Regions from separate parts of the Homo sapiens genome. Here region 1 is linked to region 2. A link means that fine-mapping ties the variant in region 2 to the expression of a gene that starts in the linked region. Tissue or cell type: whole blood. Region 2 holds a variant in brackets; the other region holds the start of a gene. All regions are shown on one strand. Distances are from middle to middle.

Region 1 (10,688 bases), 24 kb after region 2:
ATCAGACTTACAGTCTATGTTGATGTCAATGCCAGAAAGGTATAATGAGGCATGTCTGACTCCCACTTTCAGTCATGGCCTGAACCAGTCTCTCAGGTTACATTTTAAAAGAGCCCTGGCTGAGAAGAAAGTCCATTCAGATAGTTAGGGGGGGGCCTTAGAATATTATTTTTGGTTTATATTCATATTTCCAGAGCCTAGCACCATAACTGACACTACACTGGTCTTCAGAAATTAAATTTTATTACTATTTTATTTTATTTTATTATTTTTGAGATGGAGTCTTGCTTTGTCACCAGGCTGGAGTGCAGTGACGCAATCTTGGCTCACTGCAACCTGTGCCTCCCGGGTTCAAGTGATTCTCCCGCCTCAGCCTCCTGAGTAGCTGGGACTACAGGCACGCGCCACCACACCCAGCTAATTTTTGTATTTTTAGTAGAGGCGGGGTTTCACCACATTGGCCAGGATGGTCTCCATCTCTTGACCTCATGATCCGCCCGCCTCAGCCTCCCAAAGTCCTGGGATTACAGGCGTGAGCCACCGCGCCCAGCCGGTCTTCAGAAATATTTCTTGACTATTTGAGTGAATGATTCCTTGGTTTCCCTACCTAAAAAATGTAGCATTTTCCTTCTCCATTCTCATTATACTGTTTCAATAATTTTTCTTCTTCTCCTCCTTCCTTCCTTCCAATTTTACCTCCATCCAATGTACACAAGATATGTTCACTCCACTAGTTAAAACAAACAGAGCAGGTATGGTTGCTCATGCCTGTAATCCCAGCATTTTGGGAGGCCAAGGTGGGAGGATAGCTTGCGCTCAGGAGTTCAAAACCAGCCTGGGCTACATAGCGAGACCCTATCTCTATTAAAAATAATAATAATAATAATAATAATAATAATAATAATAATAATTAGCTCAGCATGGTGGCCCAAGCCTGACCTGTAGTCCCAGCAGTTTGGGAGGCTGAGGCAGGAGGATCACTTGAGCCCAGGAGTTCAAGACCAGCTGGGCAACATAGGGAGACTCGTCTCTACAAATAATAAATACATTAATTAAATAAAACAAACAGAATTTCACTGACTCACCTTGGCTAAGGGATCAAATCAAAACCCCTCGGTTTGATACCAAATGCCATTCATGATCAGGACTCCACCTGTCTTTGCAGCCTCAACTTCCTTCACTCAATTTCTTCACATTGTTTTTTTCTAGCAACAAAAAATTTCTCCTAATTCCCTGGACACACAATATTCTATTCAAATTTCTGTAAATTTGTTTAGGTCGCCCTTCCCCCATCCTATAATCCTGGGAAGGTGTGGGAGTTTTTTGCTGTATCTCAGCACTTGTCCATCCTATAGCCACCTCATCATAACTCCCCAAGGAGGACTACTTATTAATACCTCTGTATCTCTTGATACTGCATCATTTGTGTATTTGTGTTTGGGAGTGGACAGTATTATTTAAAATATTTTTTCTGGAATAGATAACTAATTGCCCCAAAATAATTTACTGAATAATCCATTATTCCTTCCTTAATTTGAAATGTTACCTTTATTATAAAATAAACGCTTGGATATGTATATACCAGATCCATGTCTGGAGTCTGCATTATTTTTTCATTGATCCATTTGTTGATTTCTGCATGTCAAGTGCCAAATGTTTTACATTATTATAGCTCTTTACAGTGTGTCTTGATATCTAGTAGGCCAATCTTATGAGGAAAAACAATGTTATTTTTGCTTTATTTTGCGTATCCCATAGGGCCATTAAGATTGAACCATCCTTTCATTTTGCTTGGTCTCAAGTTTTCTCTTTTGAGGATGCCCAATTCATATCCTTTAATCATTTGTCAATTACATATATTGGAGAATTCCTTCTTCCAGGTATTTCAACTTTATTTACAGTGTCATTCATATGAATGAAGCTTTTCATCTGGATGCAGTTAAATTTTCAATCTTTCCTTCTATGGCTTTTAATTTTAATAACTTGCTAAAAGGTTTCCTTCCCCTCCCTCAAAAGTTGTAAAACTATTCTCCCAGACTTTCTTCATTATTTTTCATATTTAGGTCACTAATCCATCTAGACAGGGGGATAAAAATGTCCAGGGATGAGATATTTCTCTGCCAATTCAGATGGGACAGCAGTGTAGGGTGCCTGGACCTTAGAGAATTCAGTCACCCCTGCCGTGTGTGAAGGGTGACTGTAATGAAGAAAGGAATGCCTTCTGAACATCCAGTTGACTGTAAGTTCTTCATGAATTTACATAAACTACTCACATCTGAACAAAGATCTTCTGGTACTGTCTTCTGGATTCCTTATCTGTGCGTGAGGGGCTAACAGTAAGATGTTTAGTGTTGAGCTGTTGGTGGCCAGGTACAGCCTCTAACTATAATCCCAGCACTTTGGGAGGCTGAGGTGGAAGGATTACTTAAGGCTGGGAGTTTGAGATCTGCCTGGGCAACATAGTGAAGCACCGTCTCTATTAAAAAAAAAAAAAATAGTGTGGAGTTGGAAGACATAGGACACTAAGTAACAGGCTGGGCTCCAAGCAGGGTTGTAGAAGACATGAAACTAAAACCTAGCTCCCTGTAGTCTGTTGACTGAAGCCATTTTGCCTCTCCAACATTTCTTGTAGCATGAATAATTTCTCCAATATCTCCCTCGTTGCAGATTTAATACCTAAATAGAAATACTGAAAAACGGCAGCCTAAAATTGGGGAAGTTCTTGAAACTTTTGGTAAGGTAGGCTGGGTATGGTGGCTCACACCTGTAATCTCAGCACTTGGGGAAGCCAAGGCAGGTGGATCACCTGAGGTCAGGAGTTTGAGACCAGCCTGGTCAACATGGCGAAACCCCATCTCTACTAAAAATACAAAAAATTAGCTGGGTGTGGTGGCATGTGACTGTAGTCCCAGCTACTAGAGAGAGTGTGGCAGGAGAATCACTTGAACCCAGAAGGCCAAGGTTGCAGTGAGCTGAGATTGCGCCATTGCACTACAATCTGAGCAATAGAGTGAGACTCTGTCTCAAAAAAAAAAAAAAGTTTTGGTATGGTAAAGGCTTGATCAGAACTGTACTTGAAAAAGATGATCCTGTTATTTGTCAGACAGATTCAATAAAGGGACTGCATGTGGGCTGAAGTGGCAGGAAGTAGGAAGGAGTGACTGACTCATGAGACAGTGGAGATGAAGCCATGATTTAATCTAGAAGGATTAGATATTGTATTACCCAATCAGTAGAACTCTTGACAGCTGATTAGTCTGCAATCTTTATATGATATGGGGGAAGTCAAAGCAAGGAATCTGGGTACAAGGTAGAAAGAAAGTGCTGTTCACATAGAGTAGGCCGGGCGAGGTGGCTCATACTTGTAATCCCAACACTTTGGGAGGCCGAGGCAGGCAGATCACCTGAGGTCAGGAGTTCGAGACCAGCCTGGCCAACATGGTGAAACCCCGTCTCCACAATTAGCCAAGCGTGGTGGTGCACACCTGTAATCCAAGCTACTCAGGAGGCTGAGACAGGGGAATCACTTGAAGTGGGGAGGCAGAGGTTGCAGTGAGCCGAGATCGCAACACTGCACTCCAGCCTGGGCAACAAGAGCAAAACTCCATCTCAAAAAAAAAAAAAAAAAAAAAAAAAACCACAGACAGGGTAGCCTTGGTGAGGATGGACTCTGTGGATAATGATAATGGACTTCTTGTCTTTGAGGTGTGAGTAATCTTTGGTAAAGGTGACCAACTGGGAAGAGGTGAGGGCTGAAGAGATTATTTTAGTCAGCTGAAGGTGAAAATTGAATCTGATAGGTACTGAAAACACAAAGAAGATAATAAGCAAAACTTATTCTAGGAGAGAAGAAAGAAAAGGAAAGCTGAGAAAACAAGGAGTTATTCAGAAGGAGGAGAAGAATAAAGAGGGTGGTGTGATCAAGGATGATAAGGACTAAGAAAACACCAATTGTTACAATTGTTACTGTTAATCTTGATATTCAAGAGCACTGTGGTCTACCTGGGAAATGGATTTCCTCACATATTCTGAAATTCATTCTTTAAGACTTTATATCCCAAGATACTCACGTAAAAAATGAGGAAAGAGAACCTTGGTTGGTTCCAGAGTGCCCTCTCTGGAACTGGAACACTCAGCTGCCAATTGTTTTCCAGTATTCCTCACCCACTTGGGCATGACAGGACCCTGTGCTGTTTCTTCTTCTTTGAAATAAGGACAATAGTTTACTGCCTAGGATTGTTTTAAGAATTAAATTAGTTAATTATTGTATAGTACTTAGAACAATGCCTTGAACATAGTAGGTGTTCAATAAATACCAGCTACAGTATAGTAACTTTTTTTTTTTTTTTTTGACGGAGTCTCACTCTATAGCCCAAGCTGAAGTGCAGTGATTGGATCTCGGCTCACTGCAACCTCCGCCTCCGGTGCTCAAGCAATTCTCGTGCCTCAGCCTCCCAAGTAGTTGGGACTATAGACACGCGCCACCACCCCCAGCTAATTTTTTGTATTTTAGTAGAGACAGGGTTTCACCATGTTCTCCAGGGTGGTCTCGAACTCCTGAGCGATCCACCCACCTCGGCCTCCAAAAGTGCCAGGATTATAGGCTTGAGCCACTGCGCTTGGCCAGTAACCCATTTTTAAGGCCCAGGTGAAATAGTTTTTCTATTTCTATGATTTTCTATTTCTATGATTAAATAGTGTTTAATCAGACACTTCAGCTGCATATACCTCCCACAGCTCATTGATGATACAACAGTTCGCACAGGGCCTGGCACACATGCTAAAGGCTCAGCAGTATTGATAATCACCCACACTTACAAAGCACTATGGGCCAGACACTGCTGTGCTTTCTTTACAGATATCAACTCATTTAACCCACCCTAAAAACCCTGAGGTTCCCAAAACTGGCATATCCTCATGTTACAGATACAGAAACTAAGACACAGCCGGGCTAAGTAATTAATCTAAGCTTACACAAATAGCCGAGACAGAGCCAGGACTTAAATCCAGGCAGCCTGTTTCACAGTCCCTGCTCATAACCATGGTGCTGTATAGTTCCAAACATCTTAACTAATGAGGACAGCATTATTTCTCAAGGTGCACAGCACAGAGAACTTCAAAAATTAGACTCTTAGTAAAACACCATCTTTTTTTTTTTTTTTTGAGACAGGGTCTTGCTGTGTTGCCCAGGCTGGAGTGCAGTGGCGTGATCTGGGCCCACTGCAACCTGCACCTCTCAGGTTCAAGAGAGTCTTGTCTCAGCCTCTGGAGTTGCTGGGACTACAGGCAGGCACCACCGCGCCCAGCAAATTTTTTGTATTTTTAGTACAGACGGGGTTTCACCATGTTGACCACGCTGGTCTCAAACTCCTGACCTCAAGTGATCTGCCCGACTCGGCCTCCCAAATTGCTGGAATTTATTCCAACACCTCATTCATTCATTCATTCATTCGAGACAGAGTCTAGCTATGTTACCCGGGCTGGTCTCAAACTCCTGGGCTCAAGGGATCTTTCTACCTCAGCCTCCCAACGTGCTGAGATTACAGGGACACGCCACCGCGCCAGCCCGAACATCTTTATCTTAAACCCAGAAAAGTGACAGGAGTGTCTCCCCTACAAGATGATGACCAGCCCTCCAGACCTGAGCCCAGGTGTGATTCCAAGGCCCCTGTACTGGGGCCAGACAGGGAGACTCGCTCTCAGGGACTTCCCAACCAGCACCATCTTCTCCCTGCGGGGATGGCGAGGGAGCGCGGGCCGGCCCCGGCCCTGCCTCCGCGCTCGCGCTCGACGGTGTCCTGAAGCGCGCTCCCGGGGAGGTGTTGCAGCCATGGCTACGGCAGCCGGCGCGACCTACTTTCAGCGAGGCAGTCTGTTCTGGTTCACAGTCATCACCCTCAGCTTTGGCTACTACACAGTAAGGACAGCCGCTGGAGCGCTACGGTCTGACGAACGAGCGAGCGCTCGGTTCACCCCAGGACCTGGGCTCACAGGCCGCGGGCCGGGGGAAGTCGTGCAAGCACAATCCCGACTCCCGCGCGCTAGGAGCGGAGGGGAGGGGACCAGACTCCGCAATGAGAGCAAGCATACTGGTCCGCCAGGGTCTTGGGCGGGCGCCCAGGGCCCTGAGAAACCGGCTAGCCAGGCTTTTCTTATATGGGGGCGGGGACGGCTGGGGAGCTCCCAGCCAACTCTGTGTCTGGGTTTTTCAAGAGGATGGTGAAGTCGGAGGCCAGCAATGCGGCTACCGCCTATTTCCGTCCAGCAAGACCCTTGCCCTCTCTGGTCACAGTCCTGGGGCTGGGCTACTTCGCGGTGAGGCGTGGGGTGGGGCGGGGCGGGCCTCTGTTTTGGCCCGCCGGGCCCTCGTAGGGCGAGGGGAGCTCTGGGAACGGGGCCTGTGCGCACGCGCATCTGACGGTTGTCTCGGTTACTCATGTAAGCGGAAATTCGGTGGGCTCTTAGGATAGTTTCTGCTTTCTAGTGTTCCTGTCTTTGGGTCCTCACCTCTGCATGGTTACTAACGGGTTATCCGAGCCTAAGCCTCTCACGAAGCGGAAAGTCAAGTTAACAGACTGCCATAGGCCTGCCAAGTCAGAATAGGGCTTCCGAAGCAGAATGTTTGAGCCAATAGGAATTGTTTGGAAAACGGGGATAAATCTAAAGGATGGGTAGGATTTAAGTGGTAAGGGAGGATAAAGAGGCTATAACTGTTCTGACATAGGTGTGGAAGCAAGAAGAAAGCTGTACCTAGAAAAAGAGCGACGTTTGTTTGGCTGAGAAATAATCTGTTTAAAGGATAACGAGAAAGATGCGTGGAAAAGTAGGTTGGGGGCTAAGGTGGTAGTTTTGTGTTTTTTTGAGACGGAGTCTCGCTCTGTCACCCAGGCTGGAGTGCAGTGGGGCGATCTCGGCTCACTGCAACCTCTGCTTCCCAGGTTCAAGCGATTCTCATGTCTTTACCTGTAGCTGGGATTACACTATGCCCAGCTATTTTTTTGTGTTTTTAGTAGACATGGGTATTGGTGAGGCTGGCCTCGAACTCCTAACGTCAAGTGATAAGGTGGTAAAATTTTGAAGGAAGGCGAAGCTATTTGGGTATACCAATAGATCCTGGAGATTGGAGATTTGTCTTGTCCACAGTGTTGTTTGTTGGTGTCAAATCTGACAACCTATGTCCTGATTTCCCCATATGTACAATGGAGGTGTTGAACTGAAAATTTTCAAAGGTGCATTTCTGTTCTACGATTTAGTGTCTGTGACTAGTTAGAATATAGTTGGAGGAAAGCTTTGGGGACTTCAAATTGGGATCTTGTGGAGCTGGCAGATGCTCCCCTTTCCCTTTGGTTTGGGAGGATGCAGTGATATTTGTGCATTATTTAACTTTCAGATGTGAAACAACATCGTGAGAGAGGTAGTACTGCTCTTGACAAAGATTTGAATGGGACAATACATTTTGAAACTGTTGAGTTATTCTCAGAAAAGTCTTAGCTGACAGAAGTTACAATACAGAGGCTGAAAGTTAAGATTACGAAAAATTTATGTGATTAAGCAGTTGCTATTAAAATGTCACAACCTTATCTCACTTATTTTCCATCTCTATGCAGTGGATCATTCTCAGTTTTAGCCGTACAAAAAGGGAAAGCCGAGAAAGGAATTCTAAATTAAACAGAGGTTTGGCTGGAGCCAGTTTCTGCAGTAAAGAAACTAGCCAAAGCACATAAACTCAAAATTTGCTAATATCTTTTATAAAATAATGGTTTTGGTGGAATGTATTAATAGGAGTCAGCCAGGCATGGTGGTTCACCCCTGTAATCCCAGCACTTTGGGAGGCCGAGGCGGGCAAATCGCTTGAGCCCAGGAGTTCGAGACCATCCTGGGCAACATGGCAAAACCTCATCTCTACACACACACACACACACAAAATTAGCCATGGGCAGTGGCTCACACCTGTAATCCCAGCACTTTGAGAAGCCGAGAAGGGCGGATCACCTGATGTCAGGAGTTGGAGATCAGCCTGGCCAACATGGTGAAACTCTGTCTGTATTAAAAATACAAAAATTAGCTGGGCGTGGTGGCATGCACCTGTAGTCCCAGCTACTCTGGAGGCTGAGACAGGAGAGTCGTTTGAATCCGCGAGGCGGAGGTTACAGAGAGCCGAGATCGTGCCACTGCACTCCAGCCTAAGCGACAGAGTGAAACTCCATCTAAAATAAATAAATAAATAAATAAATTAGTCAGTCGTGGTAGCCATGCCTGTATTCCAGCTACTTGGGGAAGCTGAGTTGGGAGGATCGCTTGAGCCCGGGAAGTCAAGGGTGCAGTGAGCCGTGATCAGGCCACTGCACTCAAGCCTGGGTGACAAAGCGAGATCCCTTCTCTACAAAGAAAACAAAAGAAGAAAAGGAAGAAAAAAAGACTTTAAGAGTCATCCACCGTGGGCACTGAGTCTGATAACCACATACTTTCCTCAGCATAAGTCTCCCAGTAGAGTTGCTTTTAGAAAATAGAAGTCATCCTGGCACAGTAGGTCATGCCTGTAATCCCAGCACTTTGGGAGGCCAAGATTGGAGAATTGCTTGAGCCCTGGAGTTGGAAACCATCCTGGGCAACATAGTGAGACCCCATCTCTATATACAATTTTTAAAAGTAGCTGGGCATGGTGGCACACACGTGTAGTCCCATCTACTTGGGAGGCTGAGGTGGGAGGATGGATTGAGCCCAGATGGTGGAGGCTGCAGTGAGTCATGATCATGCCACTGCACTCCAGCCCCAGCAGCGGAGTGAGACCCTGTCAAAAAAAAAAGAAAGAAAGAAAATAGAAGCCAAGAATGGAGACCCAAATGACTGTTCAGAGTTTCTTCGGTCTGTGGTAATTTTTTTACTGTTTCACAGCCTTTCTCAAAAACAAAAACAAAAAACAGGTTTTAAGTGACCTAATAGGTATTCTGTGTCTCTGCTTCTCTTTCAGTGGGTTGTCTTCTGGCCTCAGAGTATCCCTTATCAGAACCTTGGGCCCCTGGGCCCCTTCACTCAGTACTTGGTGGACCACCATCACACCCTCCTGTGCAATGGGTAAGGAGAGCTGCACAAGTGGACTGTGGACACTGGAGCTCTGGTCTCATGGGAAACCTGGAAGGCCTGCAGCTGCCTTTTGGTATCTAAGAGTAGTGTCGGTTCACCTTAAGGCACTTTTCTTTTTGAGATTGCTGTGTTAGATTTCATCAGCAGATAACTATCACCTTAAAAAAGATTAACCTTTTTTTTGGTTTCAGGTATTGGCTTGCCTGGCTGATTCATGTGGGAGAGTCCTTGTATGCCATAGTATTGTGCAAGTAAGTCTTTGAAGTAGGTGTTTGTTGCCTTTCTCTTAGTAGCTAATATAAATTGAGAGCAGCCACATTTAAATAGTTCACACACTTGTAGGCTGAGAATATTCTCAGGGTAGAGCGGAATCCCCATGCCTGATACTGAGCCTGGAGCAGAGGCAGTACCCAGTAAATGTTTGATGAATGCATTCATTTTGTTTATGTTGGTTAACCAATTACTTAGTTATCTAATTCAGATGACTTTTGTTATTTTTTAACAAATTTTCTGGGTAGCCCCAACTAGATCAAAAGACTAGGAATAGGAGCCTGGCTTCTAGTTTACAAAAGAGCTAAGTGACTGACCTAGGCCGATGACTCACAATCCTCGTTTTACAATTGAGCCACCTGAGGAGCTTTTTCAAAATACACACGTCTGGTTTCCAGACCCAGAGATTCTGATTGGGTAAGTCTTGCCTCAGAGATAGGAATGTGCTCTTTTTAAAAGCTCCACAGATAATTCTAGGATGCAATGCTAGTTAAAAGCCCCCAAACCAGACCCCACTCAGGAGATGCTAGTATAGGTTAATGCTATGTGAGAATACAAGAAAAAATTATGTTTGTACTTTATATAAGCATATACAGAAAGTATGGTACAATGAAAAACATGGTTATGGAAATGCCAAATTGCTTCTTTCCAATTAATTTCTGGTCAAGATAATAATTAATTGAATTAATTTCTGGTCAAGATATACTATCACCTCTATTATTTTTCTATTCTAAAAGTGGAAAATAAGATACTGTATTGCTATTACTATGTTTCAATAATAAAAATAATATTGATTGGGTACTGCTATGTCAGAGACTGCTAAGTATGTTAAATAGAATGATCTTACTCTGTTTTCTTGTTTATTAAACAAATAAGCTAGACTTTTTTTTTTTTTTTTTTTGAGAGGGAATCTTGCTTTGTCACCCAGGCTGGAGTGCAGTGGCGCAATCTTGGCTCCCTGCAATCTCTACGTCCTGGGTTAAAACGATTCTGCCTCAGCTTCCCCAGTAGCTAGGATTACAGAAGCCCACCACCATGCCTGGCTAATTTTTGTATTTTTATTAGAGACGGGGTTTCACCATGTTGGCCATGCTAGTCCCGAACTCCTGACCTCTCAGGTGATCCGCCTGCCTTCGCCTCCCAAAGTGCTGGGATTATAGGCATGAGCCACTGTGCCTGGCCACAAGCTAGACTTTCTATGAAGAGGAGCAGAAAGTAACTTTATTCTTTCTTTCTCACCCCTCTCCAAGTAAATTTGTTTTGTAGATCGTTCCCCACCTTCCACCGTATCTCTGGATGGAATTTCAAACAGATCGTAGGATTTCCAGTCACCA
Region 2 (10,688 bases):
TCTGGCTTTTATTTTGAAACCAGTTCTAAAGAGAAAGAACAGTTTGTTAATTCAATCTGTTGGTTAAGACATATTGTACAATGCATTTCCACAATGTAGAATTTTACAGTTAAGTTTAGTCTCAGGATGATCACCGGCTTGTTTCCTGACTTGAATAAGACACAAAGAATGAAGGCAATCCTTTGTGGGGCTGCACATTATGGAGGTTATAAATTGTGCACAATCCCAAAATTTCAACTGCCTCATAGTTGCAGTGGCCCTTTTGTACATGCAAACCTGGACCTTTCAAAATCTCCTACCAACCTGTTTGCAATCCTCCGCATTTGGAAAGAACAGACTTCCAGCCTTTCCCTAACTTATTTATTTTACTCACGCTGACCTACCAGGATAAACTTGTGATTCAATATACTCTAAATTATACTCTTAAATTCACTGTATTCAAAGACTATGCATAAAACAAGCAAGAGTTGGCCGGGCACAGTGGCTCATGCCTGTAATCCCAGCTCTTTGGGAGGCTGAGGCAGGTGGATCACAAGGTTGGGAGTTCAAGACCAGCCTGGCCAACTGGTGAAACCCTGTCTTTACTAAAAAAAAATACAAAAATTAGCTGGGCATAGTGGTGTGTGCCTGCAATCCTAGCTACTTGGGTGGCTGAGGGAGGAGAATTGCTTGAACCCAGGAGGGGGAGGTTGCAGTGAGATGAGATTGTGCCACTGCACTCTGGCATGGGTTACAGAGCAAGACTTTATCTAAAAAAAAAAAAAAAAAAAGGAACAAGCAAGAGTTTGTAATAACCTGGCAAGGCATCTTACACGTGACTCTAAGCATTCCATTTGACACCTCTAGTCTTCATTTTTTTCCCTCCTCCACAAAGAGAGGATAATTACACCTGCCAACCATAATCCCTAGGGGTTTAGGGGAGGGAGAAATGATCAACACTGTTTTAGACTCTCCATCCTAATAAGCTCTGTTGTGGTACCGCACCTAGAGCCCTACCATGCAGGTAAGGATGTCTGGGGGCCTTTTAATATTTGATCCCTCCAGGAACCCCTCTGTCTGCAAGTTCAGAATTGCTTTAGGTTAATAGCGCTTAAAGCTAGAAAGATGTCTGATCCACACCTATAATGACTGCTTAAAACAAAGTTGTGGGCCAGGCGCGGTGGCTCACCCCTGTGATCCTAGCACTTTGGGAGGCTGAGGTGGGTGGATCACCTGACATCAGGAGTTCGAGACCAGCCTAGCCAGCATGGGGAAACCTCATCTCTACTAAAAATACAAAAATTAGCTGGGCATCATGGCGCATGCCTGTAATCTCAGCTACTCAGGAGGCTGAGGGAGGAGAATCCCTTGAACGCAGGGGGCAGAAGCTGCAGTGAGCTGAGATTGTGCCACTACACTCCAGCCTGGGCAACAGAGTGAGACGCCATCTCAAAATAAATAAATAATAAACAAATAAATAAAATTGTGACCATGCACAATGAACCTGGCACCTCCAGATATACTCATTTTCTTCTCACAACACCATCACAACATAATTATACATATTTTACAAAAAGATAAGGTGCAAGAGTCAACTTGCACCTTATAAGTCAACTTGCACCTCTATAAGTCAGATGTTATAGAGCCATTAGGAGGTAGATCTCATGAGGACCCAACCAAAAGACAAGACCTCACTCTCTCATGACAGAGCCTCCTGTGGCCCTCCCCTCAAACATGCTTGCTTCCTGATCACATCATGGGCACTTTCTTTAAGCACATGCAGGCCAGTTCAATTCAGTGTAATTTGATTAGCCGTTATCTATGAACTTCCTTTTAGGAATCTATCCCTCTGACAAGTAGAAAGGATAAAACATAATTAAAAAGCACTTTTGACCATGAGCAACCCAACTGTCACAAAGTTAGAAATGTAAATAAATGAACAGTATAAGAACGTTCATTTAAATGTTTGACCAAGCCCAGGCGCAATGGCTCATGCTGTAATCCCAGCACTTTGGGAGGCTGAGGCAGGAGGATTGCTTGAACCCAGGAGTTTGAGCCCAGGCTAGGCCATATGGCAAAACCCCATCTCTACATTAAAAAAAAAAAAAAATTAACCAGGCATCATGTCCTGTGGTCCCAGCCACTCAGGAGGCTGAGGTGGGATCACTTAAGCCCAGGGAGTCGATGCTGCAGTCAACCACAATTGCGCCACTGAAATCCAGCCTGGGCAACGGAGTGAGACCCTGTCACTTAAAAAAAAAAAAAAAGAAATCGATCAGTCCTTCCATTTCTATCCTGGTTATTTACTTTATTTGGATTTTCTACTTATTTGCAGGAAAGCATTTGTTTGTATTTCCCTTGAAATGTTCTCACTTCATGAAGCTTTTTTTTTTTTTTTTTTTGTGATGGAGTCTCCCTCTGTCACCCAGGCTGGAGTGCGGTGGCATCATCTCAGCTCACTGCAACCTCTGTCTCCAAGGTTCAAGCGATTCTCCTGCCTCAGCCTCCTGAATAGCTGGGATTACAGGTGTCTGCCACCACTCCCAGCTAATTTTTGTATTTTTGTAGAGATGGGTTTTTGCCATGTTGGCCAGGCTGGTCTTGAACTCCTAACCTCAGGTGATCCACTCACCTCGGCCTCCCAAAGTGCTGGGATTACAGGCATGAGCCACCATGCCTGGCCTACTTCACGAAACTTTTATAAAAATTTCATTACACAATATTTGCCTATACTTTTCCTTTATTCTCCAAAGTTGCTTATATTCTTTGTTTTCACTAACACAATTTTGTCCTTCTGTCAAGCAACCAATATATTCAATAGTCAAAGGATAATCACAGATGAGAAATATGAAAGTCTCCTTAAATGTGTATATATAATCTGTCAGGGGATTAGAGAATATATTGTATGTGTAAATAATATAAATTCAAATACAATAAGATGTTGTGCTTTAACAATTTACAATGATCATATCAGAAAATCACCAAACAAAATATTAGTTCGTGCAATAAATGGTTATGAAGCAACTACTGATGCTGTGGGGTTCTGTGCCAAGTCCCGTGACACTATCAAGCCAAGTTCTTCCTCCTGCACTTCAGACTTGCATGCCTAACTTTTTACTTACTCCTTGGAGTAAGTAAACTCTTAGAAGTTTAATTGGCACACCAAACTTAACGTGTGCAAAGTAAAACTCCAAATGTCTGACACAAAAGTGCTCTTCTCCCAAGCTCCCCTGTTAGTTAAAGGCATCTCCAATCTTCCATGTCAAGCCAAAACTTTGGAGCTATCCTTACCTCTGGCATCCCCAATAACTCAGCAAACTATAAGCCGCTCCACCTTTAAAAATTAAAGGTCTTCCCAGTTCTCTAATTCCACAGCCAGCACCCTTGTCAAAACCATCACTGTCTCTATCCTGGAAAATTACAATAATAGCTTTTTCTTTTTTTTGAAACAGAGTATCGCTCTGTCGTCCAGGCTGGAGTGCAGTGGCGTGATGTTGCCTCACTGCAACCTCCACCTCCTGAGTTTAAGAAATTCTCCTACCTCAGCCTCCTGAGTAACTGTGATTACAGGCGCGTGCCACCATGCCCGGCTAATTTTTATATTTTTGGTAGAGACAGGGTTTCACCATGTTGGCCAGGCTGGTCTTGAACTCCTGACCTCAGGTGATCCGCTCACCGCAGCCTCCCAAGGTGCTGGGATTATAGGCATGAGCCACCGCAGCCAGCCTACAGTAGCTTCTTAACACTGCTCCCAAATTTGCCTCACAATAGTCTATTTTCCATAAAATGCATATATAATATATTCACACCCACATTGAGATGAACAACAACCAAAAAAAAAAAATCAAATTTTTTTTTTTTTTTTTTTGAGAATCTCACTGTTGCCCAGGCTGGAGTGTAGTGGTGCCATCTTGGCCCTGTGCAACCTCTGCCTCTGAGGTTCAGGCAATGCTCCTGCCTCAGCCTCCCAAGTAGCTGGGACTACAGGCACGTGCCAACCTGCCTGGCTAATTTTTGTATTTTTGGTAGAGATGGGGTGTTGCCATGTTGGCCAGGCTGGTCTCGAACTCCTGGCCTCAAGTGATCTGCCCGCCTCAGCCTCCCTAAGTGCTGGGATTACAGGCATGAGCCACTGCGCCCAGCCTAAAAAAATCACTTTGTGCTATGTGATAAAATGCTATTAAACTTTTTCATGCTTCTTTACATTTTCCACATTATCTATAAAAAGACATACCCATGCAAAGCTTTTAATATTTTACTTACATCAATTACAAACACAGGACAAGAGACTGTCCAGCCAGTTTTTCCCTGGTTGTAAAATTAGGATAAGGATTCTGTGCAAATGACTGCTGAAGTACACTCAGCTTATCCTTGGCAAATTTAAGCCACGGTTTTACACTTCCTCTTCCCCATCTTCTTGTTCTTACTTCATTATGACTGGTTAATGGGAGATCCTGAAAAATGTACAAACAGAAAGAGAAAAGCATTGGAGAATACTAGTAATATCCAGAGTGGGGG[G/A]AAAAAAAAGGTCAATCATTGGCTATTTCATAAAATTTTTAAAAAGTGGAGCCCAATCTCATACCTGTACATAATAATAAAGTTACTAATGAGATTAGCCAAGTGTAGTGACTCAGGCCTGTAATCCCATTGACTCAGGAGGCTAAGATGGGAGGACTGCTTGAGGCCAGGAGTTCAAGGATCAGCTTAGGCAACATAGCAAGACCCCATCTCTAAAAAAATAGAAGTTCAAGGCTGCAGTGAGTCATGATTGTGCCACTGCACTCTAGCCTGGGCATCTGAGCAAGGCCCTGGCAAAAAAAAAGAGGTAAAATAAAAATTTTTAAAAATTAGCTGGGCTTGGTGGCACATGCCTGTTAACCTAGCTGCTTGGGAGGCTGAGGTGGGAGGATCATTTGAGCAAGCCCAGGAGGTCAAGGCTACATTGAGCCATGATCACACCACTGCACTCCAGCCTGGCTGACAGAGTGAGACCCTGTCTCAAAAAAAATTTTTTTTTAATTAAGATACAAAGCTATCCTGTGTTCCTGGATTAGAAGAACTAATATTGTTAAGATGGCTCTACTACCCAAAGTGATCTATATCTTTAATGCAATTCCTATTTTTAAAATCCCAGACATGTTTTGCAGAATAGGAAATTTCATCCTAAAATGTATGTGGAATCTCAAGGTATCCACAATAGACAAAACAATCTTTAAAAAGGAGAACAGAGTTGAAGGTCTCACACCTCCTGATTCCAAAACTTACTACAAACCTATGATGAAACAATGTGGTACTAGTGGATGTACAAGTGTAAATATATTCTGTAGATATTTTCTTGAGGTTACCATTGCAATTATAGTTTGGTACTAGCACAAAGGCAGGCATATAGACTGGTGGGATAGACTAGAGAGCTCAGAAATAAATCCTCACAAACATGGTCAAATGATTCACAAGGGTGTCAAGACCATTCACTGGGGAAAGGACATTCTTTTCAACAAACAGGGCTGTGGGAAACTGGGTATCCACATGCAAAATAATCAAGTTGGGGCCGGGTGCAGTGGCTGATGCCTGTAATCCCAGCACTTTGGGAGGCCAAGGGGGCGGATCACGAGGTCAGGAGATCGAGACCATCCTGGCTAACACGGTGAAACCCCGTCTCTACTAAAAAATACAAAAAATTAGCAGGACGTGGTGGCAGGCACCTGTAGTCCCAGCTACTCAGGAGGTTGAGGCAGGAGAATGGCGTCAACCCAGGAGGGGGAGGTTGCAGTGAGACGAGATCTCACCACTGCACTCCAGCCTGGTCAACAGAGTGAGACTCCATCTTAAAAAAAAAAAAAAAAGAAACTACAACCCAACAACAAAGAAAAAAAAACCTGATTTTAAAATGGGCAAAGGACTTGAACAGATATCCCTCCCAAAAAGGTATATGAATGGCCATTAAGCACATTAAAAATGTTCACCATCAATAATCATTAGGGAAATGAAAAAAAAAAATCAAATCCACAGTGACACATCATCTCACCCCCCATCTCACCCCATTAGGATAGGATGGCTACTGTCAAAAACAAAAAAAAAACCCAGTAAGAGTTGTCAAGGATGTGAAGAAATGTAAAATGGTGTGGCCACATGAAAAACAGTATGGTGGGCCAGGCGTGGTGGCTCATGCTTGTAATCCCAGCACTTTGGGAGGCCGAGGTGGATGGATCACCTAAGGTCAGGAGTTCGAGACCAGCCTGGCCAACATGGCAAAACCCCATCTCTACTAAAAATACAAAATTAGCCGGGCATGGTGGTGTGCACCAGTAATCCCAGCTACTCAGGAGGCCAAGGCAGGAGAATCCCTTGAACCTGGGAGGCAGAGGTTGCAGTGAGCCAAGATCACACCACTGCACTCCAGCTTGGGTGACAGAGTGAGACTCTGTCTAAAAAAAAAAAAAAAGAAAAAGAAAAAACATTATGGTGGTTTCTCAAAAAATTAAATATTATTATATGATTCAGCAATTCCACTTTTGGGTAAATACCCACAATCATTGAAAGCATGGACTTGAACAGCAATTTGTACACTTATGTTCATAGGAGCATATTGTTCCCAATGCCATGACCCAATATAAAAACTTCCCAACATTTCTAAAAAGCAAATGTGCACACGTAACACTTGTAAAAAACATAAGTTTTTTACGATAAACACTCAGTTCCTATAGTAAAAACAGCAACCAAACCAACTTGCTTTGTATGGCCATAGACCCACAGTGAGGAGCAGGACCTCTGGAGCCTGCCTGCCAGTGATTAAATCCTGGCTCTGAGACTGACAGGCCACAGTGTAGCACTGACTGCCAGTGCCCTCCTGGGCTACTCTTCTTGTCTCTGGCTGCTCTCCAGGCCCTGGGATGGAGGCCATTCCTATGGCATCTTCTTGGAGGACTTCATGTTCTAAAGGCATCACAGTTGAGCCATGATTGCTTCCAGGGCTCTTTGATGCAGATTCTTGCCTCTGAAATATAGTGATGAGCCCAGTGGACTTCTGGGCCCACTGTATATTATCGGGGCACCTTTGACTTAGGTTATTACTCATTAAACACAACGTATTAAGATACAAGGCACCGCTGGAACTAACCGGAGACTTCTCTCAACCAGGGCTCATCTAGAAAAAGAAATCCAGAATCCCCATACTTTGCAAGCCCACCTTCCCAGAGAACAGGAGTGTCAGTTTCTTCCATATCCCAGGTTTGAAAAGCTCCAAATTATTTCTGAATTTCATGAAATATCAAATCTGTGAACAAAAGGGAAAAAAATGCCTAGGGCCATTTCTACAATTCTTCCAGTATAGCTCTTTTGCTTTGAGGACGTTTTTGTTTTCAGTATTCACCCTGTTTACATTTAACCATACAGGAAAGTAGACGGAAGCGTATAATTAGCCTGATGATCTTATCACTGAAATTTAATATATAGCAATACCTGGCCAATTTTATCTCCTTGACACCCCACCCTCATTATTTTGAAGTGAATCTCAGACATGTCATTCACCCGAAAATACATCCATATGTATCTCTAAAATATAAAGTCTCTCTTAATGCTATGATGGGTTAAGATTTAAATACCTGAGCCTCTAGTAAAATCCTATACCCAATTCTACCATACGGCAACCACACACAATTACTCTGATGAAATCAGCTGTTCCCAGCCTACAAGCTTGAACTTTTGAAAGGTGAAAGTCAGGCCTAGCAGGGTGGCTCATGCCTGTAATCCCAGCACTTTGTGAGGCTGAGGTGAGCAGATTGCTTTGAGTTCAGGAGTTTGAGACCAGCCTGGGCAACATAGCAAAACCCTGTCTCTACAAAAAAACCAAAATTAGCCAGGTGTGGTGGTGCATGCCTGTGGTCCCAGCTACTTGGGAGGCTGAGGCTGGAGAATATAGCTTTGAGTCCAGGAGGCAGAGGTTGCAGTGAGCCAAGATTCCCCAACTCCAGCCGGGGCAACTGAGTAAGACCCTGTCTCAAAAGAAAAAAAAAAAAGTGAAAGCCCAAACACCTATTAATACAAAACACTAATGCATTAGGTAAGGAGCCTCCTGCAAAAGAAACACGCTTTGGTGTCCACCACAGAAACTCACCGTTGGAAGTTCAGATGAATCTCTAGTCCAGGTTCTGAATGATAAAGTGATTAACTCTGAAGCAGCAATCATCAAACATAACCCTGAGACGCCCTCCCTCACACACCCTAGACACAGCCCCGCCCCAGACACAGCCCCACCCTAGGCACAGCCTTGCCCTAGACACACCTCTTGATGGCTTTACCTAACTTTTCAAATCCCATTCACTCAATGAGCACCCAGTGAAAACAATTTGCTTATTTAATCCCTACAACACCCTTATAATGTGCATCCTATTTTAATCCTACTTAGACTTGAAGACAGGGGGACAGAAAGGTTTAGAGCACAGAGTGAGCCTCTGACCCAGGCAGTCTGACCTTGAACCTCCTGCCTGTGGCCATCACTTTCACATTTATAGACTGCACGCTCTGTGAGGACGGAAGCCTTGTCAGGCTCACAGAAGATCCACATCACCTGATATATCATTGCTTACAGAATACTGAGATTGGAGGCAGGAGTGACCAGAGATTAACACTGAATAAGGACATTCTAAGATATAAAACTAATGTTTTATAAACATTAAACCATTTGCTAATTCATCTTATTCTAAAAACTACCCTATGAGATACCAAAACCTCCATATTACAGACAAGGAAACTGTGGGCTTTTCTGCTTTTTTCACAACTCTAGGACATTGTACTTTCCCAAATGTGTGGAATAAGGTAATAACACTTGGAGGGTTTTTTGTCCTCCAGGTTTGGAAAATGCAGCTCATCCTCGACAAGTGTTTTATATTAATCCATCTTAATTCAGAGTGATACATATATTCTTCGTTCTACTTAAACTAATTGCTACAATTTATGAGGACTCATTATATGGCCGGCCCAAAGAACAGAGTTTTCAGACATTATCTTACCTAAATCTTACAGTGCCTTACGGAGATATATATTATTATACAGATGACTACTGAAGCACAGAGAGATTAGCTAATTTACCTGAGGTCAAACTCTAAGAAGAGGAAAATAACTAGCAGGAATTAAAGCAGGTGAAAATAAAGTTTGAATTGGGCAAGGTAATGGCTGACTTGCAGGAAGGAAACAGCCCCAAATGATTTCGGTTTCTCACTTCATTCCAGGGTGGACCGCGCCTCTGCAACAACAACAACAACAACAGAAAAAAAAAACAGGAAAAAGCAGGAGGAACAACTCGTGGTTTTCTTCATTTCCGCGCAAGGATGGTTAACATAACCTCCTTTCATCCTGGGACTCCAGCAGGTCCTTTCAAGCAGTGCCAGATGCTTTGGGGTAGTTGAAGAAATATTTTGGGAGCTGGAAGTCTTGGAGAATATCAACGACTGAGAGAGTAGAGCAAACCAAAATTAGATTGGGCCTATGCTGAGTTCTTTGGCTTTTTTGTCTTCCCAGTAATTCGGGCCCGCTTTGTGGTTGTTGATTTATTATTTTTTGAGACCGAGTCTTGCTCTGTCACCCAGGCTGGAGTACAGTGGCAGGATCTCGGCACACTGCAAGCTCCGTCTCCCAGGTTCAAGCAATTCTCCTGCCTCAGTCTCGCGAGTAGCTCGGATTACAGGCACGCGCCACCACACCCAGCTAATTTTTGTATTTTTTGTAGACACTAGGTTTACGCAACTTCGCCGAGGCCGGTCTCGAACTCCTGAGCTCAAGTGATCCACCCACATTGGCCTCCCAAACGCTGGGATTACAGGCTTGAGCCACCACGCCCACTCGTGCTTTATTCTCAGTAACCTTGAAATCACACTAGGTGGCGACCTTCCCCGTCCGCCCCCATCAAGCTGCTTCCAAAAACATTTTTACCAGGCACCTTCACTTTCTTTCTTTTCATTCTTTTCTCAACTCCAGTCTCTCTGTTCTCACTGCATTGTTTAGACATCATTGGTAAAAGTTAACAAATCAGGTCCTAAATTGCCCGATCATACGGTTAATCTTCTTTCCTAAGTCATCGAACATTGTTAGCCAATCTTTGTCTTCCTTGAAAGCTCCCCTACTTCAGATTTTTTTTCTTCTTGCTGTTGCCCAGGCTGGAGTGCAGTGGCGCGATCTCGGCTCACTGCAACCTCCGCCTCCCTGGTTCAATCGATTATCCCATCTCAGCCTCCTGAGTAGCTTGGATTACAGGCGCAAGCCACAACGCCCGGCTAATTGTATTTTTAGTAGAAACAGGGCTTCACAATGTTGGCCAGGCTGGTCTCCAACTCTTGACCTCAGGTGATCCGCCCACCTCAGCCTCCCAAAGTGCAGGGTTACTTACAGGTGTGAGATTCTTTCCTTTTTTTTTTTTTTTTTTTTTTTTTTTTTTTTTTTTTGAGACGGAGTATTGTTCTGTTGCCCAGGCTGGAGTGCAGTAGCATGATCTCGGCTCACTGCAACCTCCACCTCCCGGGTTCAAGCAATTCTCCTGCCTCAGCCTCCTGAGTAGCTGGGACTACAGGTGCCCGTCACCACGCCCGGCTAATTTTTTTTTGCATTTTTAATAGAGACGGGGGTTTCACTGTTAGCCAGGATAGTCTCGAACTCCTGACCACGTGATCCAACCACCTCGGCCTCCCAAAGTGGTGGGATTACAGGCGTGAGCCACC

Evidence for each region. PIP is the estimated chance that this variant, and not a neighbour inherited with it, causes the effect.
Region 1: TMEM254 starts here. The variant in region 2 is fine-mapped to the expression of TMEM254 in whole blood (TOPMed, PIP above 0.99). The same link has a PIP of 0.9 or more in spleen and thyroid.

The regions. Positions count from the first base shown.
Region 1 is chr10:80,072,870-80,083,557 of GRCh38, forward strand. TMEM254 (transmembrane protein 254) reads left to right here and starts at 5,796. Exons shown (of 4, transcript NM_025125.4): 1 at 5,796-5,917; 2 at 8,972-9,075; 3 at 9,276-9,335. The coding sequence starts at 5,831. TMEM254-AS1 (TMEM254 antisense RNA 1) reads right to left here and starts at 6,324. Exons shown (of 4, transcript NR_027432.1): 1 at 5,858-6,324.
Region 2 is chr10:80,049,154-80,059,841 of GRCh38, forward strand. TMEM254-AS1 (TMEM254 antisense RNA 1) reads right to left here. Exons shown (of 4, transcript NR_027432.1): 3 at 4,243-4,433; 4 at 1-25. Among named protein-coding and RNA genes, the nearest start is that of TMEM254, 24 kb to the right of the region's middle. The variant G/A (reference allele first, on the strand shown) is at 4,498.